Linked DNA regions of Homo sapiens: regions 2, 3, 4 and 5 are each linked to region 1. Evidence: fine-mapped expression QTL. A gene starts in region 1. Each other region holds a variant in brackets. All regions are shown on one strand. Distances are between the middles of the regions. Region 1 holds the start of LIPC (lipase C, hepatic type). Region 2 has its middle 32 kb from the start of LIPC. Region 3 has its middle 53 kb from the start of LIPC. Region 4 has its middle 21 kb from the start of LIPC. Region 5 overlaps LIPC (lipase C, hepatic type).

Region 1 (4,120 bases):
ATGGCTCCATTGCAAAAACAGTCCTGGCCAATCCACAGTAGAATGGATAAAGGAAGTGTGGCATGGTCCCGCAGTGGAATGCTACAGCAGTGAGAATGAATGAGCCTCAACTCCACGAAACTGCATGGTTGACTTTCACAAACATAATGTCGAACGAAAGAAGCCAGACGCAAAAGAGCAACTGATGTGTTTCTATTAATGAAAAATCTCCCCAAAGGAAAAAATCATATATGTTAAGGCTCAAGGGGCACACAAGGAAGGCTTTGGGGTACTGGTTCAGTTTGTGAGAACTCATTGAGGATTTATGATAGAGGCCCTTTTCTAGAAGTGTGTTATAAACTTCATTAAAAAGTAAACAAACAAATACAACATTCCGGGGCAAAGGGCAGGAAAGGCCCTTTAGCAAAATCACTATGAACCAAGGGAATAAAGATTACCAGCAATTTTACCTGTATGGCTCTAAATTATTATGTAAGGGTCATTTTTGGATGTGGCTTTATAAATGAGATGATGTGTCAAAAATAATTAGTATAGTGCTTGGCACAGAAAATACTTAGTGAATGGCAATAATTAATACTGCTACTCAGTTATTAACTGGCCTATGAAGTAAAATAGTCAAATACAAAGGAACAGCCTTTTTCTTAAAGGGGAAAAAAGCTTCTGAAATTTTTAGGTACATCCCGTTAGGGAATTTCTAATTCTCAAAGTTGTCGGAGCTCTCTCCAAGGCTAGTCTTAGAGAAAAGAAAAATCTCAGACTCTACCTTAGCGTTACTAGCTCCTGACCAGTAACCAGTACCAAAACAAATTCCCAAACACCTGTCTAGTCTGGCCAAATTGTTCAATTAACTGATCCGTCATTTATTGGTCCACTGCTTAGCCTGGAAGCTGGGCTCCACTCTACTACCTTCCTGATAAGGCATTTGATCTGTCTTTCGCCATCAATCTAGTTTGTGAATTTACAAACAAAACAGGCAGGACGGCTGTTGGATTCTTCAGCCTCAGACTAAAATTTTGGCAGCAAAACAAAGTCTAGAAATTGTGCAATGATATCTCTACTTTAGACCTGACTGGAAATAGAACTCTCATAAATTCCCCTCTCTTCTGAGAGAGGCAGGCAATTAGACAACCCCAACCCGACAGAGCATTTCATTGCAAGCCTGGCTCCCCGGTTGCAAATTAGATGCCACATTAACTCTCAGGAAGATCTGAATCGCTTTCATATCATTTGCCGCTGAATAACTTTTAGCATGACTGTTTCCATATCAGATACGCAAGAGACTTCACTGCTAGCTGCAGGCACTCTTAGAAGACTTTTAATCCGAGGATGATTTTCTAAAATTTCATTTCTGTTTACAAACGGCTACGTGTCCCTGTGAACCTGTGAGGTCGTGTATAGAACCACCTGGCACGCTCTGAAGCAAGCTCTGTCCCATACAGTCAGAAACCCCTGGATTCTTTGTGACACACGTTTTAAAAAGAAAAGTTCATGCCCATCTCTGGAGAAAAGTCAGGCTCTTACCTGGTTTCAGGCTTTGTCCAAGGGCACTTGATTGGATAAAGATGCATAAAACCAACAGAATGGAGAAACACAGGGGACTTGTGTCCATTTCTCCGTTTCACCCGGGGTCCAGGCTTTCTTGGTAATTTCTGAAGCCAAAGAGACCACAATGCCTATTAGATACTTTGTTAGGGAAGACTGCCCATTAATAATTAACCTCTCAACATGTTATCCACTGTTCAGACCCTTTCTTTACTGCCCCCAACTGCAAATCTAATTATATCTATTTTAAAAAGGTCGATTTACAGAAGTGCTTCTTATCCTGACACATTTTGAGAATAAAATACCTTGTTATGTATTCTTACCTTTTGGGGCCAAGGTCAGAGTTCCAAATTAATCAACTTAAAGCTACTGTGTTGTGTTTGGAAATTCTGCCAAAGGTCGGGGTAGGTGGCTTCCACGTGGCTGCCTAAGCCTCCCTGTGACAGCGCTGCAAGGGGGATGCTGGCTCAGGAAAGTGGTGTTTCAAATTGCAGCCTAAGCCCAAAGAAAAAGAAAAGGGCCCTGCCACGCAGAGAGCCCCCAGAGGGTCCAAATTTCTGTTGGGTTCAGTGAAATTGGTGATGCTTGTGGTCAAAGTGTGGTGCAGAAAACCCTTCACCCCCGTGTCAAAAGGAGCTGACGAAGAAGCAAAGATGCCCTTGCCAAGTGACCCATTGAGAGGTGATCCTAGAGTAAACACACTTCTTCCCCCTCTGTGTTCATTAATGTTCCAGCTGTGTAGAGGACTGAAAAGTAAGGCCACTCAGCAAAATCAGGTAGGGAAAAGGCGACCATAGATGGCTTTTGTGATATTTTTGGACCTCTAGTTTTACTTTAACTTTCTTCATTTGTTCAACATTTATATATTTTGGTATGCCTACTAGGTGCCAAGCACTGTTGCAGGCACGTGGGGTATACAAGTCCTTATGTATCAGTGGAGGTTCTTACCTTCTGGAGTTGGATAACGGACAGTAGACATAATAAAGAAGAGATTTCTGGCCAGGAGCGGTGGCTCACTCCTGTAATCACAGCACTTTGGGAGGCGAGGAGGGCGGATCACGAGGTCAGGAGTTCGAGACCAGCCTGACCAACATGGTGAAACCCCATCTGTACTAAAAATACAAAAGTTAGCTGGGCGTGGAGGTGAGTGCCTGTAATCCCAGCTACTCAGGAAGCTGAGGCAGGAGAATCGCTTGAACCTGGGAGGCGGAGGTTGCAGTGAACTGAGATCGCGCCATTGTACTCCAGCCTGGGCGACACAGAGAGACTCCGTCTCAAAAAAAAAAAAAAAAAAATTAGGTAGACTGGTAGAATGTAATGGGAACCACTACAAGAAAAGCAGGGGGTTGGGGAGAAGGTAGGGATTTTAAGCAGAGTGGTTAGAGTGAATTGCATTGGGAAGTTAAACTTTCAGCAAAGGTTTGAAGGAAGTGAAGGAGTTGCCCCTGTGGACGTCTTGGGGAGGAGAGCTTCGGGCAGTCTGTGCAAAGGCCCTGAGGTAGGAGTATGCCTGGTGTGCTCCAGGAATAGCAAGGAGGCCAATGAATGGGGAGACATTGTAAGGACTTTGACTTTTATGCATTGACACATGGGGGGCGACTCTGAGCAGAAGGGTGATATGATTTGTATTATAGTTTTAAAATATCACTCTGGTTTGCAAGTGAGCCAGGGTGCAGTGGGGAGATCTGTTAGAAGGCTATTACAGTGGCCCAGTGAGAGGTGATGGTGGCGTGGCCCAGCATGGTAAAGGGCAACTGCGGAGTGGTGGATGGGTGGTGGATATATTTTGAAGGTAGAGCCCACAGGATTTTCTGACTGCTGAGTTGTGAGATGTGGGAGAAAGAGAGGAGTTAAGGATGACTTCCAGGTTTTTTGGCTTGAACAAGCAGATTAATGGGGTTGCTGTCAGCTGAGAAGGGGAAGCTGTGAGTGAAGCAGGTCTGTTGGGGGAAGATTAGAGATTCAGCCTTGGCCACGTGGGGCTTTGAGATGGCTCTTAGACATCCAAGTGGAAACGTTAAGCGGGCAAAATTAGATAACATGGTAATTATTGCCTGGACGAGCCTCATTCAAAGGGCCTTCTGAAGCCACCACCAGACTTGGACGATCTTGACCCAGTCTAAAGCTGTGTTCTGTCCTATGACTGTACCTTCCTCCCAAGCCCCGAAGCTTGCGGACCATCCCGTCAGATATACAATTTCTTTTTCTTTTTCTTTTTTTTTTTTGAGATGGAATCTTGCTCTGTCGCCCAGGCTGGAGTGCAGTGGCGCGATCTCGGTTCACTGCAACTTCCACCTCCCAGGTTCAAGCGATTCTAGTGCTTCAGCCTTCAGAGTAGGTGGGACTACAGGTGCCCACCACCATGCCTGGCTAATTTTTGTATTTTTAGTAGAGACGGGGTTTTACCATGTTGGTCAGGCTGGTCTCTAACTCCTGACCTTGTGATCCACCCACCTCGGCCTCCCAAAGTGCTGGGATTACAGGCGTGAGTCACCGTGCCCATCAGATATACAATTTCTGAGCAAGGACTTCTGCCTTGGATACTTGGCTGGCTCCTGCACAGTTAAGCAGAATCTGA
Region 2 (4,120 bases), 32 kb after region 1:
CCTTTAGTCATATGTTTGTTTTTCCTGAATTGGTGGAAAAATATTACTTTTTCATCAAAATTGAAAATAATGAAGAAAAACTCAGAATAAGATGAGGTTGGGCAGGAGTCAGTGATGTCTCAGAGACGGAAGCAACTGGCTTTCCCGTGGCCAAAACCATTTCCGTTCTGAGGCCATTGGCACAGGTGGGCACATGCCCTGTTTCCCGCCTCCCCCACCCAACTCTCCACACATCCCCCATTGCCAACGCCTTGCCCTCATCCCTGCCCCCACAAAACTCAGTTGGGTTGTTCCCATGGCCACTGTGAGCAGGGCTGTCCAACGTGATCCCAGATGGCTGCCTTTATGACGGCTCTATGCCGCCTCATTCCCCATGTTGTGTACTATGATGTCCACCACATGTTAAATTAACAGTGTCTGCTGTGCGAGGGTAATGGATTGGGCAGTTCTTCTCTTTCTGAGCAGTTACTCAGGCTTGCCATCTGGCAAATCTAGTAGCCAGGTGGTAACCCTAAATAACCTCACTTTGATGGGGTGGGGGTAGAGGGGACCCCAGTTGGTTCTGTTCTTGCCATCTGCGGCCTCCTTCTCTTGGAGGGAGATGTCCAGAGCATCTGAGCCATGCGATTTCTTCATCAAGCAGCTATTTGCCATGAGAAACACTGCCACTTCAGGTATTCAGAATTCTGCTCTCCAGCAACTCCACCAATTTAGAATAGACTCAGGAACCGGAAGACAAACCCAAAAAGGCTGTGTGCAGCTGAGACCGGAGGGAAGCTCATGTACCAAAGCTCACATGCCTTCCTCTTGGGAAAGTTACTTGAGCTTCGACTTGGAAGATACTTACTCTTACTTTACATTCAGTGATAATCATAGAGGTCCTCTAATTTCTAAGGATTCAGTATCTTGGAAGCCACAGATTAGAAGAGAGGAGAGAGCATGTAACAGCAGACGCTTTGACAGATAATGTGGACTGCCTGAAGATGCTGAAACTAAGCAGATGTAAGATCCAAGAGCTAAGAGCACAGCAAACTGGGGTCATTGAGTGAGAGGCAAAGTGCGCTATAGCCCTTCAGTATTACCTGAGGACACCACGGTACAATAATGAAGTCTGGAGTTACAAACCTGTGACACCAGCACTGTTCATTATGATCAGTACAGACCATTTCAGGGGCAGGGACTCTGTTAAACATTACAGAGATGTCCTCTCCAAATGGTTAAAATAGAAAGACACACAGGAATGAAACGGTTCTTTGAGAAAAATCATATAACCAGGAGTAGAGTGAATTAAAATATTACATAAGATTTTTGCAAAGACTTTTTTCATTATCATAAAATAAGGTAGGTTTATTGAAGAATATTTAGAAAATGTAAGCCAAAAGAAGAAAATAAAACATGGCTATAACCCTTACTTCCAAAATATAACAAGTGTTAGCATCTTATTGGCTCTCCTGTTCTCTCTTTGTATGTATTTGTATATTTATACCATTTATCAATCTGTCGTCTGCCTGCATACCCATCTATAACTAGTTGTAAGAAATATGTAAGAAGTAACTTGAGTTTACCCCCACTTAATACACAGACAAGAAACTTTTCATGTTAATAAGTAAACCACCTCAGCATCATTTTAGAGGTTACGTTGTTCGTATTTCATAATATGGATAGTCTTCCAAGGGGCTGTGGTAATTGATTATTTATAAAAGTGTATATTGCACAGAAATATTTGGAAAATAAATCTGTGATCATTATGAGCCAATAGGGCATGATGACTTCTATCCTAATCACCACTAGACAATTTCACTGCTGTGGTAGTAGTACTGAAAGCTGCAAAGCTGGGCCTTTTTGCCGTTGTGAGCCATACTGGTTGTTTGCTTCTTGTTCATGAAGGAGTCTAGAATGTGCCACCCCAAAATATGCCACTTTGGCGTAAAGATTATTTTGAGCAATTGTGAATCAACAGATAAAGGAAAACTTCTCTACTTTCTTGTTATCTGCCTAAAAGCAGAGCATAAATTTCCTCCCCTCTTCTGTACCACGATAACGTGTGCAACCCTTATCATTGGAATTGAAGAGCTGGCACCAGGATGAGTCTGCATAAACAGACCTTATTAAAATAACCCTGATCTTTCATCAGTTTCCCCCATATATTTCCTCATCACTTTCCCACAATTTGTTACTCCTATTTCCCAAACTTTATCAGCCCTCTTTTCTTTGTCTAGTCACTTCTCCACAATTTATCAACTTTTGTTAGAATCATATATAAGACCCTGGGCCTGACTGATTCTTTGGGTTTCTCACTTCTTTTCTGTGAAGC[C/T]CCCATGCATGTAGAATGAAAAAATACTAACACAATTTGTATGCCTTTTCTCCTGTCAATCTGTGTTTTGTCAATTTAATTCACAGTGGATCTCTCCACTCTCCCCTCCGCTTCTGGACTTTAAACAGGATTAAAATTATACTGCATTAAATGCCAGCTGTTTGCTCCTCACAGTGCAGAGCAGTACTTTTTAATTCTTTTTTTGAGACAGAGTCTCACACTGTCATCCGGGCTAGAGTGCAGTGGTGCAATCTTGGCTCACTGCAACCTCCACCTTCTGGGTTCAAGTGATTCTCCTGCCTCAGCCTCCCAAGTAGCTGGGATTACAGGCACCTGCCACCACACCCGGCTAATTTTTTGTATTTTTAGTAGAGATGAGGTTTCACTATGTTGGCCAGGCTGGTCTCAAACTCCTGACCTTGTGATCTGCCCACCTCGGCCTCCCAAAGTGCTGGGATTACAGGCGTGAGCCACCGTGCCCGGCCTAATTCTTAAACTTTAATGTGCATACAAATCACCTGGAGATGGTAGAATGCAAATTCCAGTTCGTGAGGTCTGGGGTGGAGCCTGAGAGTCTGCATTTCTAATAAGCTCCCTGGCAATGCCGATGCCACCGGACGGAGTCCCGCATTGAGTAATGAGGGGGCAGAGTGTGCCTCAGGGTCCCCCAGAGGGCCTGTTAAAACCCAGACTGCTGGGCTCTGAGAACAGAGTGTCTGATTCAGTTAGGTCTAGGTTGCGGCCCAAGAATTTGCATTTAACAAGTGCCTTCTCAGTAACGCTGATGCTGCTGGTCTAGGGAGCACACATGGAGAACCACTGGCTTAGAGGCAGTCACTGGAGCCAGGCCGACTAGCTTTGCAGCTAGAGTCCCGCTTTGTCCCTCTGTAGCCTCAGCGAGTTGCTTAACCTCTGTGCCTCACTTTCTTTAAGTCAGGGATAATAATACCACCGATGTTAGAGGGCTTTTGTGAAGCACTGTGTATGCTCTATATGTAGGCACTGTGTAATGTTATTATTTGCCATTCCTTTCAACTCAGGGATTAAAATGTGCACATTTTCTGCTCTTCAGACAATCTTTTGGGGGTGAGGTCTTCCTCTTACCCAGGCATATCCGGAGAACCTCTCTCCGTTCACTTGTGCCCTAGAAGGTAAAAAGTCCCCACATCTACTTTTGCACTATGGTGTTGATTCCTCAGTAAGCACATGGCTGCTGAGCACTGCCTGCCTTTAACCTGGGTGCACAAGAAATCCTTATAAACAAAGAACGCAGCCAAACCTAATGAGTACAACATCATCTCAGGCTGCAGCAAGGAGGTTTGTCTCCCTCAGCTTCCCTGGGAGGACCTGCTCTCTGTAAGCTCAAAGCCTGTTCTGGCTAGCATGGATTAGAAAGAGTGGTTCCCAGCATCCCAGGCAGCTCTCTGTCTAGAGTGTTTTAATCACATGCAAGGCTGAAAGTCAAGGGAGGTAAGCAGCCCCTGCAGCCAGGAATTTTTTACCTGCCTGGGGAGGCTGGAGAGGGAGATTAGTGGGCTGCTGAACATTTCAGGCAAAGCAGCTAGCAGAGCCCAGAGACACAAGGTAAGGAGGCCTGTGGCACAGCCACATGGGGTCCAGCGTGGCTGAAATGTGGAGTGGGAGGCCAGGAAGGGCATTAGGGTCACACAGGGCCTCCAGTGGCATGTGGGACGGAGGGTCCCTCAGTTAACTGAGGGAGGGAGGGAAGCTATATCAGAACGCTTTTGATGGCAAGTAACATAAACCAACTTGCCTTAGCTTAAGCTCAAAAAAATACTTCATTAT
Region 3 (4,120 bases), 52 kb after region 1:
GCCTGTGTTACCTATGTTAAGGGAATAATTTAGTCTACAAAAACAGGTAAATAGTTTTGCTACAAGTAAAAAGCTGATGTTCCTAGAAAGTCTGGGCCAAAGATGGATCAGCCCAGAACATTTGTCTTAACAATGAAATAAGTAATCACAATCAGACACTTTTTTTTTTTCTTTTGAGACAGAGTCTCACTTTGTCACCCAGGCTGGGGTGCAGTGGCCCCATCTTGGCTCACTGCGCCCTACACTTTCCAGGTTCAAGCGATTCTCCTGCCTCTGCCTCCTGAGTAGCTGGGACTACGGGGACACACCACCGCCCCCTGCCGCCCCCCAGCTAATTTTTGTATTTTTAGTAGAGACAGAGTTTCACCATGTTAGCCAGGCTGGTCTCAAACTCCTGACCTCAAGTGATCTGCCCGCCTTGGCCTCCCAAAGTGCTGGGATTACAGGCATGAGCCACGGCACCCAGTCATCAGACACTTATTTTGTAAAGAATTATTGAATTCACCCATACATGGTCTGTGTGGATATAGTCTGGAATCCAGGTGAGAACTGATGGAGTATTTATGGAGAAATGGCTGATTATAGGACAAGGATTTCTAAATATTCTAGGGAACTGACTAATATTTCCAAAGATTTCCTATTCTCCAAGCACAGGAACCAGCTGGAGTGGAGCCAAGGCTCAGGCTTGGTCGGGGCAGAGCAACTCCTCTATTTCACTTGTTAGATGTCCTAAACCATTTTGTCCAATGTTATTGATGCAAATTGGTGGTTGTGATGGTTAATTTTATGTGTCAACCTGACGGGGCCTTGGGTGTCTAGACTTTTGGCTAAACGTTATTCTGGTGTATCTGAGAGGATGTTTTTTGATGGGACTAACATTTAAATTGATAGACAGACTGAGTAAAACAGATTGCTCTCTCTAATGGGGCTGGGCCTCATCCAATCAGTTGAAGACCTGAATAGAAAAAAAAGGCCAAGTAGGAGGAAGTTCCTTCTGCCTGACTGCTTGAGCTGGGACACTGGTCTTTTCTGCCTTTTGGCTCAGACTAAAACATTGGCTGTTTTTGGGTCTCAAGCCTGCTGGTTTTTGGACTAGAACTTTCACCATCTACTCTCTCGATTCTCAGGCCTTCAGACTCAAACTGGAACTATACTTTGACTCTCCTCAGTCTCCAGCTGCCTGACCACAGATCTCGGGACTTCTCAGCCCCCATAATCTTGTGAACCAATTCCTTATTTTATATATGTATACTGTCATGCTCTGCATAATGACATTTAGGTCAATGATAGATCACATATACAATGGTGGTCCCATAAGATTATACTACTTTAGCTTTTCTATGTTTAGATATGTTTAGATACACAAATACTTACCACTGTGTTACAACTGCTGTCAGTATTCAGTACAGTAACATGCAGTACAGGGTTTTTAGCCTAGGACCGATAGGCTCTATCATATAGCCTAGTTGTATATTTGACTGTATCGTGTAAATTTGTGTAAGTACACTTTATGTTGTTCCTGTAACTGAAATGCAGATCCAGTCATTCACTGCTTGCAGAGTCCAATTAACAAGAGTGAGGTCTGATATAAAGGAACTGCTTTATATTCTATTATAAAGACACATGCACATGTATGTTCATTGCAGCACTATTCACAATAGCAAAGACATGGAATCAGCCTAAATGCCTATCAGTGGTAGACTGAATAAAGAAATGTGGTACATATACACCATGGAATACTATATAGCCATAAAAAAGGAGTGAGGTCATGCCCTTTCCAGAGACATGGATAGAGCTAGAGGCCATTATCCTTAGCAAACTAATGCAGGAACAAAAAATCAAATACTATGTGTTCTCACTTGTAAGTGGAAGCTAAATGATGAGAACACATGGACACACAGAGGGGAACAACACACACTGGGGCTTATTGGAGAGTGGGGGTGGGAGGAGGGAGAAGATCAGAAAGAATAGCTAGTGAATGCTGGGCTTAATACTGGGGTAATAAAATAATCTGTACAACAAACTCCCATGACACAAATTTACCTGTATAACAAACCTGCGCATGTACCCCTGAAATTAAACTAAAAGTTAAAAAAAATTCTTCCAATCTATGAACATGAGATGTCTTCCCATTTATTTGTGTCTTTTAAATTTCCTCCATCGATCTTTTATAATTTTCAATGTACAAATTTTTCATCTCTTTCGCTAAGTTAATTACTAAGTGGTTTCTTTTCGTTGCTAATATAAATGAGATTGTTGTTGGTGTATAAAATCACCATTGATTTTTGCATCTTGATTTTGTATCCTGTAACGTTAATAAATTTGTTTATTAGTTCTAAAAAAAGTGATATATTATATTTCAAAGCTAGCTTAGGGGAAGAAGTACAGGCTTCTTGTCTTAAGGGTAGCAGGTGCAGAAAGTAGGAATTATTTTAAAAGGG[G/T]GCTTGGCATGAATGGCATGCAGGGGAGAAAGCAATTGGATGGAGGTCCACATAATTCGCTTCAGTGCCTTATCTACTGGGCCATTGAGCTGGCGCCTTCATGGGCAGAACTAGGTTTTAAAAGTGTCTGAAACTCTCCAGGTGGGAGAGAATTTTGTAGTGGGCATACTTAGGCTTGTAAATTGAGTGTTGCTCTCGAGGCAATCTTCAGCCGGGAGAGAGTTCCACTCTGGAGCCCCTAAGCATATAGTTAGATGAACTTGCCCTGTAGGGAATGTCTGGTGATGGGGAGGTCTAAGTAGGAAGTGAGGAACAGGGGAAAAGGAGAAAGGAGAAAAGAAAAGAAAAAAATCATTCTGTTTTTCTTAGACGAATGGGAGTACTTGGTTACATTCCTACAATGACAAAGCTGCCTTCATGACTCATTTCTCAGAAAACAGTGCTGTAGTTAAGCGATGCATGACTCTATCTGTCTATCTATCTGTCTGTCTATCTATCTATCTATCTATCTGTCTATCTATCTATCTATCTACCTATCATCTATCTATCTATCTAATCTCCTATTGGTTCTATTTCACTGGAGAGCCCTGCCTAATACAGTTGTTTTAATTATTCCTCATTTCCAATGTACTTTCCTCCTTGACTTTCATTATGGGTGGAGCAGGCTCTGTTTGATTCTAAAATTATATGAGGAAAATATAAAGAGATAACCACAAAATTGCTAATTTTTTTGGTGGAGGGAATCTGTTATGTGGATAAAGGATTAGTCTTAATACTATATTCAAGTTAAGTTATTAATTCACTGAATTTTTATGGAGCACCTACTGTGTGGTAGGACTATTCCAAAGAAGCAATGATTTCTGCCCTTGTGTATGTATGTTTTATTTTTATTTTTTAATTATTATTTTCTTTGAGATGGAGCCTTCCTCTGTCGTCCAGGCTGGGGTGCAGTGGCGCGATCTCAGCTTACTGCAAACTCTGCCTCCTGGGTTCAAGTGATTCTCCTGCCTCAGCCTCCTGAGTAGCTGGGACTACAGGCGCCCACCACCACGCCCAGCTAATTTTTGTACTTTTAATAGAGATGGGGTTTCGCCATGTTGGCCAGTCTGGTCTCAAACTCCTGACCTCAAGTGATCTGCCCTCCTTGGCCTCCCAAAGTGCTGGGATTACAGGCATTAGCCACCCTGCCAGCTGTGTGTTTATGTTTTAAACAAAGGATAGAGACAATAAGCATGATAAATAAGTCTAACTATATTGTGTGTTAGAGAAAAATAAAGCAGGAAAGGGGAGTGGGGAGGGGTTCAATTTTAAGTAGGGAAGTCCTAAAGGGCTGCATTGAGAACTGTATTAGAAAAATGACCTGTACGAAAGTGTATTAGCTTCCTATTGTTGCTGTGACAAATGACCACAAACTTAATGGCTTAAAACAACACAAATTTATTCTCTTAGAATCCTGGAAGTGAGAAGTCCCAAATTGGGCTCCTGGGACTAAAATTAAGGTGTCAGCAGGGCTGTGTTTCGTTTGGAGGCTGTAGGAGAGAATTCATTTTCATGCCTTTTCCAGTGTCTCTAGGCTACATTCCTTGGCTTGTGGCCTCTTCCTCCATATTCAAAGCCAGCATTATCAGGCCAACTCCTTCTCACACTGTCATTTTTTTAGTTCTTGTTCCTTTGCCTCC
Region 4 (4,120 bases), 21 kb after region 1:
TTACTATTTTTTATTATTCACATACTATATATTCATAGTAGAAAAGATAAAGCAATATAACAAAAATTGGCAGAAATATCAGTGCACAGAGATAACCACTGTTAGTATTTAGATGAATATTTTATAGACTTTTGCTTTCAATCGACAAAAACTCTAGATACTTTTTCTAGTTAAATATGAGTACATTAAAAATGGAGTTATATTGTACGGCTTACGGTTTTAACTCTCTTTTAAGTCTTAGTTTATTTGACATACTTATAGGTAATCTTCATAACAACTTTGCAAGGTAGAGCCTCATTTTTAGATGAGGAATCCAAGGTTCAGAGAGGTTCAGTAAACTGCCCAGGTCACACTGCAGTAAGGAATGTAGTTTATAATCTAAACCCCGAACTGTTTGCTGCAAAGGCTCTTGGTTAGATTATTCTTTTGCCCAAGGCTCCTTTCATTGCTTTTACTTATTCACATTTAGCTTTATTGCATGTGGTGAGAAAATATGTATATTTTTTCCTCTTGATTCAATTTTTAGGGCCTTATTTGAGAGTTAGTATATATGTACCAATGCCCCCATATGGAAAAAAATGTGTAATCTATGTTGGTATTGAGTTCAGTGTATGTCTATTGGTTCTAACTTATCAATTGTATAACATAACCTCTATTGTCTATTTTTGTCACGTCTTCAATGTCTTCTAAATTTTTGTCTATTTAAATTTGTCTTTATTTTTTACTCTTGTCTATTTTTTTCTTAGCCTTGAAATGAATTAAACTCTCCCTTTACAATTGCTTGTTTTTTATTCTATTTCTCTTTGCATTTCTGACTTTAGTAACCTCTGTCTTCACAGTTGATTTTCTATTTTTTATCATAATCAGGAGCTTCTTTGTATCCTCTCCCTGTGTTTTTGGCTTCAAAATCTCTTTTATATGCTATCAACTTTACCAACTATTTTCTTTTTGTCGTATGAGTTTCCTCATTAAACCTTTTTATTTTAGCATTTCTGCATTTTTTGGGTAACAGATTCCTATTTTTAAGCAACATACGTATTGTTGGGTCTTATGTTTTAATCCAATATGAGAATTTGTCTTTTTAGAAATCAATGGCCTAAGGCCGGGCGCGGTGGCTCACGCCTGTAATCCCAGCACTTTGGGAGGCCGAGGTGGGCGGATCACAATGTCAGGAGATCAAGACCATCCTGGCTAACACGATAAAACCCCGTCTCTACTAAAAATACAAAAAATTAGCCGGGCCTGGTGGCGGGTGCCTGTAGTCCCAGCTACTCGGGAGGCTGAGGCAGGAGAATGGCGTGAACCCGGGAGGTGGAGCTGTGGCAGTGAGCCGAGATGTTGCCACTGCACTCCAGCCTGGGTGACAGAGTGAGACTCCGTCTCAAAAAAAAAAAAAAAGAAATCAATGGCCTAAATATATAAAGTTCTTTGGGGAGAAGCTAGTGTATTGATATGAGATGGGCTCCCAGCTACTAGCTGTGGACTTTCTACAAGTTCCTTAAATACCCTGTGAGGAAGCTACTTACAGGCGTCTTTATCTGTAAAATAATGTTAATAAGCACACCAACGTGATAGAGTTGCTTCGAAGATTAAATGAGATCAAGAGCAATCAGAAATAGAAGCATATTAAAGCATATTAAACTGATTATTTGTAAAATGCAATTGTCAATATTTGCTATGATAGACATTATGTCTGGAAATACCATCCAAAGCAAGTTTCTTGGCAGTTAGAAAGCAAGTTGGTTAAACGATGATCTATGCTCAAAATGGGGATAATCAGTTCTATACTTTTCTCCAACCATATTTTAAATTTTTCTTTGAGATAATGGGAATAACTTACAAGAAAAACTGCTGAGAAGCAGTGGTCCAAAGCCTTTTTAGAAGCTCTCAGGGTTCAGTTCAAGTTGTCCATCTCCATTTCTGGCTGCACCTGGAGCTTCACAGCTTGACTTAAATTCGGCCATGTCAGGAATCACTCACTGCCTTGCTTTCCATTTAGTTAATTAAGTGCTTAGGTTTACAAATAAGTTATTTGCTCTCATGACGGGTATGGAAGCTGCAGGCTTTGCTGTGCCTTGGCAATTCTCATCAGGC[G/A]TGGAAAAACTGAAACTAAGAAAAACCAACCAAGCGATGATAGATTTTCCACTTCCTGGATTGTGTGACTTGCTCATCCAATGAAAGGCAATGAGGGTGGGGTGGGGGGCAACCAGAGATGAGGACTGATTCTCAGCTTGTTGTTCTCCTCAGCAGTCCTCCAGCCCCTGTACAGCTGGAACCTCTGCATCAGTGAAAGCTGCTAGGAATTCAAAGTGCGTTCACATTCACTTCTGCTCCTCAGGATCAGAGGCAGTGAGGAAAGCTAAAAAAAAGTCTGAGGTTTAAATTGGAACCCATTTTTAACTTTTCAAATGTTCTTGGTATTTTAAGATCCAGAAAACCTTAAATCAGACAATTCTATATTACCAAACTGAAGAATAGTCTATAATATCATAATCTGATATGCTCCAGACTGACCTGATTTATTTTTACTTGTATGAACTTCAAATCTGATGGCTTTTATTTGATCCCTCAGAGGATGCTGTAGGTCCATTTCCCATCTGATGCAATAGAGGTGTCTTTTTTTTTTTTTTTTTTTTAAACTTCTCTGATAATAATCATCATCTGGTGTCTTGTTACACAAATGTTTCTAAGTTCCTCCCTAGAGATTCTGCTTCAGTGGGTCTGGGATGGGGCCTCAGATTTGTGGTCTCTTTTTCTGTTTGTTTGTTTGTTTTTTTGAGACAGAGTCTCACTCTGTCATCCAGGCTGGAGTGCAGTGGCGCGATCTTGGCTTACTGCAACCTCCACCTCCTAGGTTCAAGTGATTTTCCTGCCTCAGCCTCCTGCTTAGCTGGGACTACAGACACACACCACCACACCCGGCTAATTTTTGTATTTTTAGTAGAGACGGTGTTCTACCATGTTGGCCAGGCTGGCCTCAAACTCCTCATCTCAAGTGATCCACCCACCTCGGCCTCCCAAAGTGCTGAGATTACAGGCATGAGCCATCGTGCCCAGCCGGATTTGTGTTCTTAACATTAGCTTGGGCAACAGTGGAGTAGACTGAGGGGATAGATTCTACTTTTACAATTAGAAAGCCTTGGGCTCAAGTCCTGGGTCTTTCACTTGCTCGTTATGTGGTCTTGCACAAATTACTTAATCTTCCTCAATCTCATCTGAAAAACAACTGGAGATAAAAATATCTAAAAGTGTTGTCAAGAGGATTAAAATAACTAACACCCTTGATAGCATCCACTTTTCTCAGTATTGCTAAATCATTTCTACCCAGGTTAATTTGAAGATTATCTGTGAATTTATTTAGCATGCAGGCATAATGTTTTTTACTTATTTTCCTTGTTTATTTGGTGTATATTTGTGAAGCTTTTGCTGTGTGCCAGACACTGCGATTTTTAGAACACACTGAGCACTCCCTGATGGTATCACCTGCTCACATGGTCCATCTCAGGTTGTGTTTTCGTTTTTGTTTTTTGAGACAGAGTCTTGCTCTGTCTCCCAGGCTAGTGTGCAGTGGTGCGATCTTGGCTCACTGCAACCTCCACCTCCCAGGTTCAAGCAGTTCTCCTGCCTCAGGCTCCCAGGTAGCTGGGACTACAGGCATGCACCATGATGCCTGGCTAATTTCTGTATTTTTGGTAGAGATGGGGTTTCACCATGTTTGCCAGGCTGGTCTCGAACTCCTGATCTCAAGTGATATGCCCGCCTCAGCCTCCCAAAGTACTGAGATTACAGGCATGAGCCACTGTGCCCCATCCATCTCAGGTTTTTGAAAGTACTACCCAGCTTTCTTGTGTGAAAGAAAGCAGGCCCCTAGTTATTCATGGAGCTTCTTGGATTAGGAAGGCCATGTCCTTATTCCTCCTTTGTACCAGAAATTCAATTTTTCTTGAATCTAATCGTGTATTTTTTTCAAAAGAAAATATATATAAAATTATTCGATTTGATTTTACACAGAATATGTTCCAGGTACTTTGCATTAAGTGAATTGTCTCTTTTTGGACAGAAAAACCTTTGTACTTTTCCCCCTCCCCTCATAATAGCAAGAATCCAATGGATTTTTGAT
Region 5 (4,120 bases), 26 kb before region 1:
GTTCCCGTGCAGGCGTCCTTGGGGACGGGTGTGGATTCCTTCCTGTGACAGCTGCAGAAGCCACCAGAACACGGTGCAGAGCACGAGGCTGATTTTCAATCCCAGTGTGGGCCACACCCTATGTGGGGGGAGTGTTTGCTTTTCCATAAATGTAAAAATTGCTTAATATGACTCCAGAGAAGACTAAACACCTGTTTGCTGGTGGACTCTCTCTCGTTTATTTTTTCTGTTTTCAGGAGCGGGTGGGACTTCCTCCAGAAACTGCTGGTTTCCTGAAAATCTGGACCATGCCTGAGACTTTTTTATGAACTTTTAGCTTTGTTTTGATTTATTTATTTATTGTGAGCTCTCTAAGGGACATCAAAAAAAAAAAAGAAAGAAAAAAGTCGATTCTCCAAAAGATTTTCACTCAAGCTTAGCAAAGGACAGAACTACAATGTCACCAGCAAATGTTTGCCCCTCACTGAGCATTCTCCAAAGTGAGGTCTCTAAAAAGACACTGTCTATGTCACTTCCTGCTTGCTGGGAAAAGCCAAAGTTTCACTAGGCTTTGACCCAGAGGTCGTCTTGCAGTGAGGGAGGCCATCTCCTCCTGATGTCCACTGGGCCTTTGGTTTTCAATGACTGAAAGCTGTTTTTGTCCCAGCAGAACTACAAAATACATACCTCACCTAAAAAAATAGGAGGCATGACTACCATCTCTCCCTCTTGGAATGTATTGCACCTATAGCCAAGGGGAGATGTATAGCCTTCTCAATGTTCTATGACCTAGCACCTTTTTCTCTTAAATATTCACTAGAAAACTAATAAAGCCATGGACATACTCTGATGTTATCGATGGCAGATTTTGGGGTTGACCTAATGTACTTTTTCCCCACTTAACGCACAACTTAATCATCTCCTGAGGAACAAAGAGATGGTGGCAAAAAACCCTCTGTAAAACCTTTTTCCTGTTCCACTGGGAAACCAGGATCAAGGACAAGGGACAGGAATGGTGCAGGGACAGGAGCTAGTTGTATAAGATGTGTAATTTTGAGGGGCAGAGGGGTGACCAGATTCTGCTGGCAAGGGCTGAGAAACAGGGAGTTCTTTGGTTTCTGATGGGGAAAGAAACCATAGAGTGTTATTTAGCCCTGTTGGAAAGCTGGTCTCTGAAAACTGAAAGCACCCAAGATAACGGGGATAAAGATGGGAAAAGGTTAGAGGTGGGAAGGGTTAGAGGTTGCAAAGCCTCAAGTAAGACTTATTCTTTGGGTGGTGTCATTCTAAATGTTTTGACTTGGAGGAAAGAGCTGGGAATGAGGACAATGTCCCTGCTATTATAACAGCAGCATATGCACCAACATAAAGAAAAATCCTGTTTAAGAAAAACCTGCCTGGGCTGTGCTTTAATTGCAAGAGGTAGAAGGACGTGGTGGGGGAGGCTCAGCTGCTGGTCTAACAATAGCATAAGCCGACCTTGCTCAGGGGAAGTCCATTGCTAAACTTCAAAGTTCAGTCTGTGAACTTCACATTTAGGAAGCACTTCCTGATGACCTCATTTAAAATTTTATTCTTCCAAGGGACACAGTACAGAATATATGGACTTACATTTTTTTTTTTTCTCCAGCAATTTCCCTGCTTCTGTAGGAGTAAAAAAACGGAAACAGGTGCTTATGTATTTATTTTTAAAGCTCCCTAGCTACTAAGGACAGCAAGGACTTTTGCCATTTAATTTTTGTTATTGTCTAGCTCATGAAAATGTATTTCTTAATCCTCCAGCTACACATATTCCTGATGAGAAAAAGTATAAACTGGTATGTCCTATGCACTCTAGGAGCCCTTGATTTAAGACTAACCACA[C/T]GGCATGTACACAGACAGCCATGTAGAAAATGCCTGCAGAGCCAGCATCAGGGGCAGGATGGAGACATGGGCCCGGGATAGAGTGGAAAAGGAATTGTGTGAATCACGGAGGTGGACAAGTGTTTATGTACAAGATGGAAATCCTTACCATATATCCAGTTCAGTCAGGTTTATGTGAAGGAAATGACCAAGCCAGTGCTACTTGCTCTTTCGATTACCAAATGGGATTGCTTGGCTGGTTTAGGGAGAATAAACACAATAATAGTGAAAGTAGTTGACCACAAAATGATGCGGCCTGAGTCATAGAAAGCTTTATGGAGAAGATAGCATCTGAAGGTCCCATTCAGCAATGGGTGGGGCAGAAGTGGTCTTACATGCTGAGGGGATGTGGGGCACAGAGAAACAAGGACTGCTGCTGCAGCTCTGCCCTGAAGGAGCCAAGTGGCATATCGTAAACGGGGTGCCTTGTAGGCCTTCTTGCTGTCCACAGGTAAATTTGAGGAGTGCTTAGAATACGTCATGTCTGCCGGGCGCGGTGGCTCACGCCTGTAATCCCAGCACTTTGGGAGGCTGAAGCGGGCAGATCACCTGAGGTCGGGAGTTTGAGACCAGCATGACCAAAGTGGAGAAACCCTGTCTCTGCTAAAAATACAAAAATTAGCCAGGCGTGGTGGTGCCTGCCTGTAATCCCAGCTACTCAGGAGGCTGAGACAGGAGAAATGCTTGAACCCGGGAGGTGGAGGTTGTGGTGAGCCAAGATCGCACCTTTGCACTCCATTCTGGGCAACAAGAGTGAAACTCCGTCTCAAAAAATAATAAAAAAATCATGTTTTCGAAGCCAAGGGCTGCTCAGCCCACATCGCCCAGTGCTGTTTTGGCCTTGTCTGATGATACCTGCATGCTGACAAAGGAGGTGCCCGGCCCTGGGCATCATCTCTGCTGGAGCCTAGTTCTCACTTAGCTCTGTTTCCCTGGGTATGCCACTTGACCTCCATAGTTTCTATTTTCTTATTAGTAAAATAAACGAGTTGAGCGAGATGTTCTCTAGAATAACTTCTGTTTTTCCCATTCTACGCATGGTAAAGTATACTTAAACATATGTACATATTTCTTTAGTTGGGAAAACAGCAGTGGTGAAGCCCTAAAAAGACAGAGGACCTCTCGTTTTCCCCAATTTGTTGCCTTTATGAATGTGATGGGTTGCGGGGGACATTTGCAAAGAGAGACCAGACATCTACCTGAGGCTATGAGGTAGCGGGCAGATCCCCAGTGTGGACAGGGCTACTTAGGCCCATGGGGGCAGGAGGCCTTAGCATTGGCTACCCATGTGCTCCTGCAGTCCTCCTAGGAGGGAGTGACACCCCTAGTCTCTATTCACCCCCCAGCACCTCCCTCCAGGGGCCTCTGGGCTGCATCAGGGGAGATGTGCCCTGTCCTTAGCTATGGCTTCAGGTTTGGCTCAGTGCTTTTTGCCCTTCATACTGGAAAAGCTTATTTTTCCCCATGAATATCAAAGTAATACAACTTCAGAACAACAGGAAGGTACAGAAAGCATTGAGGATAAATACATAATCAGCTATCATACTATCACACAGAGCAATTTATTTAAGTGCATTTTCTTCTAACGTGTTTTTTCCTTAATGCAAATGTAAAATTTTGCATTCTACTTTTTCTTTTCTTTTGGCTTGATCTCATAGCATGTTTCCATGCCATTACATATATTTGACCCCACTTCATTCCCTTCTGCTTCCCTATGCTCACCCTCTTGTCTCGGTGTCCCTGACTTCAGCCTCGCCTCCTGCGCTCATGCTGTGTGCCTGTCTGAAGTACAGCCATTCTTCATTTGTCATTGAGTCCTACCATGCTTTACGGCTCTCTGTCCCCCATGAAGCCTTCTCAGACCACCTTGGAGAACTTTCCAGATTGTCTATCCATCCCTGACCCCCTTCCCTTCCTTGGGGTCTGGACCATGCCTTGGGTCCTTAACAAGTGCTGCTCTGGGCTGTTAGGTCTCTTTTTATGTAGACACCCCTCAGGCAGTGGTGCATTGGTGGATACTCAGCAACTGGCTCTCTGGAAGAAAATATATTCATATATATATACACGCATACATGCATATATTGTGCATTTCATTGCTATCAAGGTATTATACAATTTATAAATAATAATGAAATATACAGTATTCTTTATTGTAAACTCCAAATAGCAATTGATTTTCACAGAATACTTTTGCTGATGTTTGTTGGACCCTTGTCTCACTAGTCAACCTATGGTGGCA

Evidence for each region.
Region 2: its variant is fine-mapped to the expression of LIPC in whole blood (TOPMed, PIP above 0.99).
Region 3: its variant is fine-mapped to the expression of LIPC in thyroid (GTEx, PIP above 0.99).
Region 4: its variant is fine-mapped to the expression of LIPC in whole blood (TOPMed, PIP above 0.99). The same link has a PIP of 0.9 or more in blood mononuclear cells.
Region 5: its variant is fine-mapped to the expression of LIPC in nasal epithelium (TOPMed, PIP 0.91).

What each region holds. Positions count from the first base shown.
Region 1 is chr15:58,429,522-58,433,641 of GRCh38, reverse strand. It overlaps LIPC (lipase C, hepatic type), which reads right to left and starts at 1,651. Exons shown (of 9, transcript NM_000236.3): 1 at 1,522-1,651. The coding sequence starts at 1,609. RefSeq lists a silencer at 3,338-3,632 and an enhancer at 3,338-3,632.
Region 2 is chr15:58,397,865-58,401,984 of GRCh38, reverse strand. No RefSeq gene overlaps it. Among named protein-coding and RNA genes, the nearest start is that of LIPC, 32 kb to the left of the region's middle. The variant C/T (reference allele first, on the strand shown) is at 2,315.
Region 3 is chr15:58,377,301-58,381,420 of GRCh38, reverse strand. No RefSeq gene overlaps it. Among named protein-coding and RNA genes, the nearest start is that of LIPC, 53 kb to the left of the region's middle. The variant G/T (reference allele first, on the strand shown) is at 2,442.
Region 4 is chr15:58,408,539-58,412,658 of GRCh38, reverse strand. No RefSeq gene overlaps it. Among named protein-coding and RNA genes, the nearest start is that of LIPC, 21 kb to the left of the region's middle. RefSeq lists a silencer at 1,895-2,189. The variant G/A (reference allele first, on the strand shown) is at 2,095.
Region 5 is chr15:58,455,656-58,459,775 of GRCh38, reverse strand. All of the region lies in intron 1 of LIPC (lipase C, hepatic type), which reads right to left. All of the region lies in intron 2 of LIPC-AS1 (LIPC antisense RNA 1), which reads left to right. Among named protein-coding and RNA genes, the nearest start is that of LIPC, 26 kb to the right of the region's middle. RefSeq lists a silencer at 1,459-1,518. The variant C/T (reference allele first, on the strand shown) is at 1,843.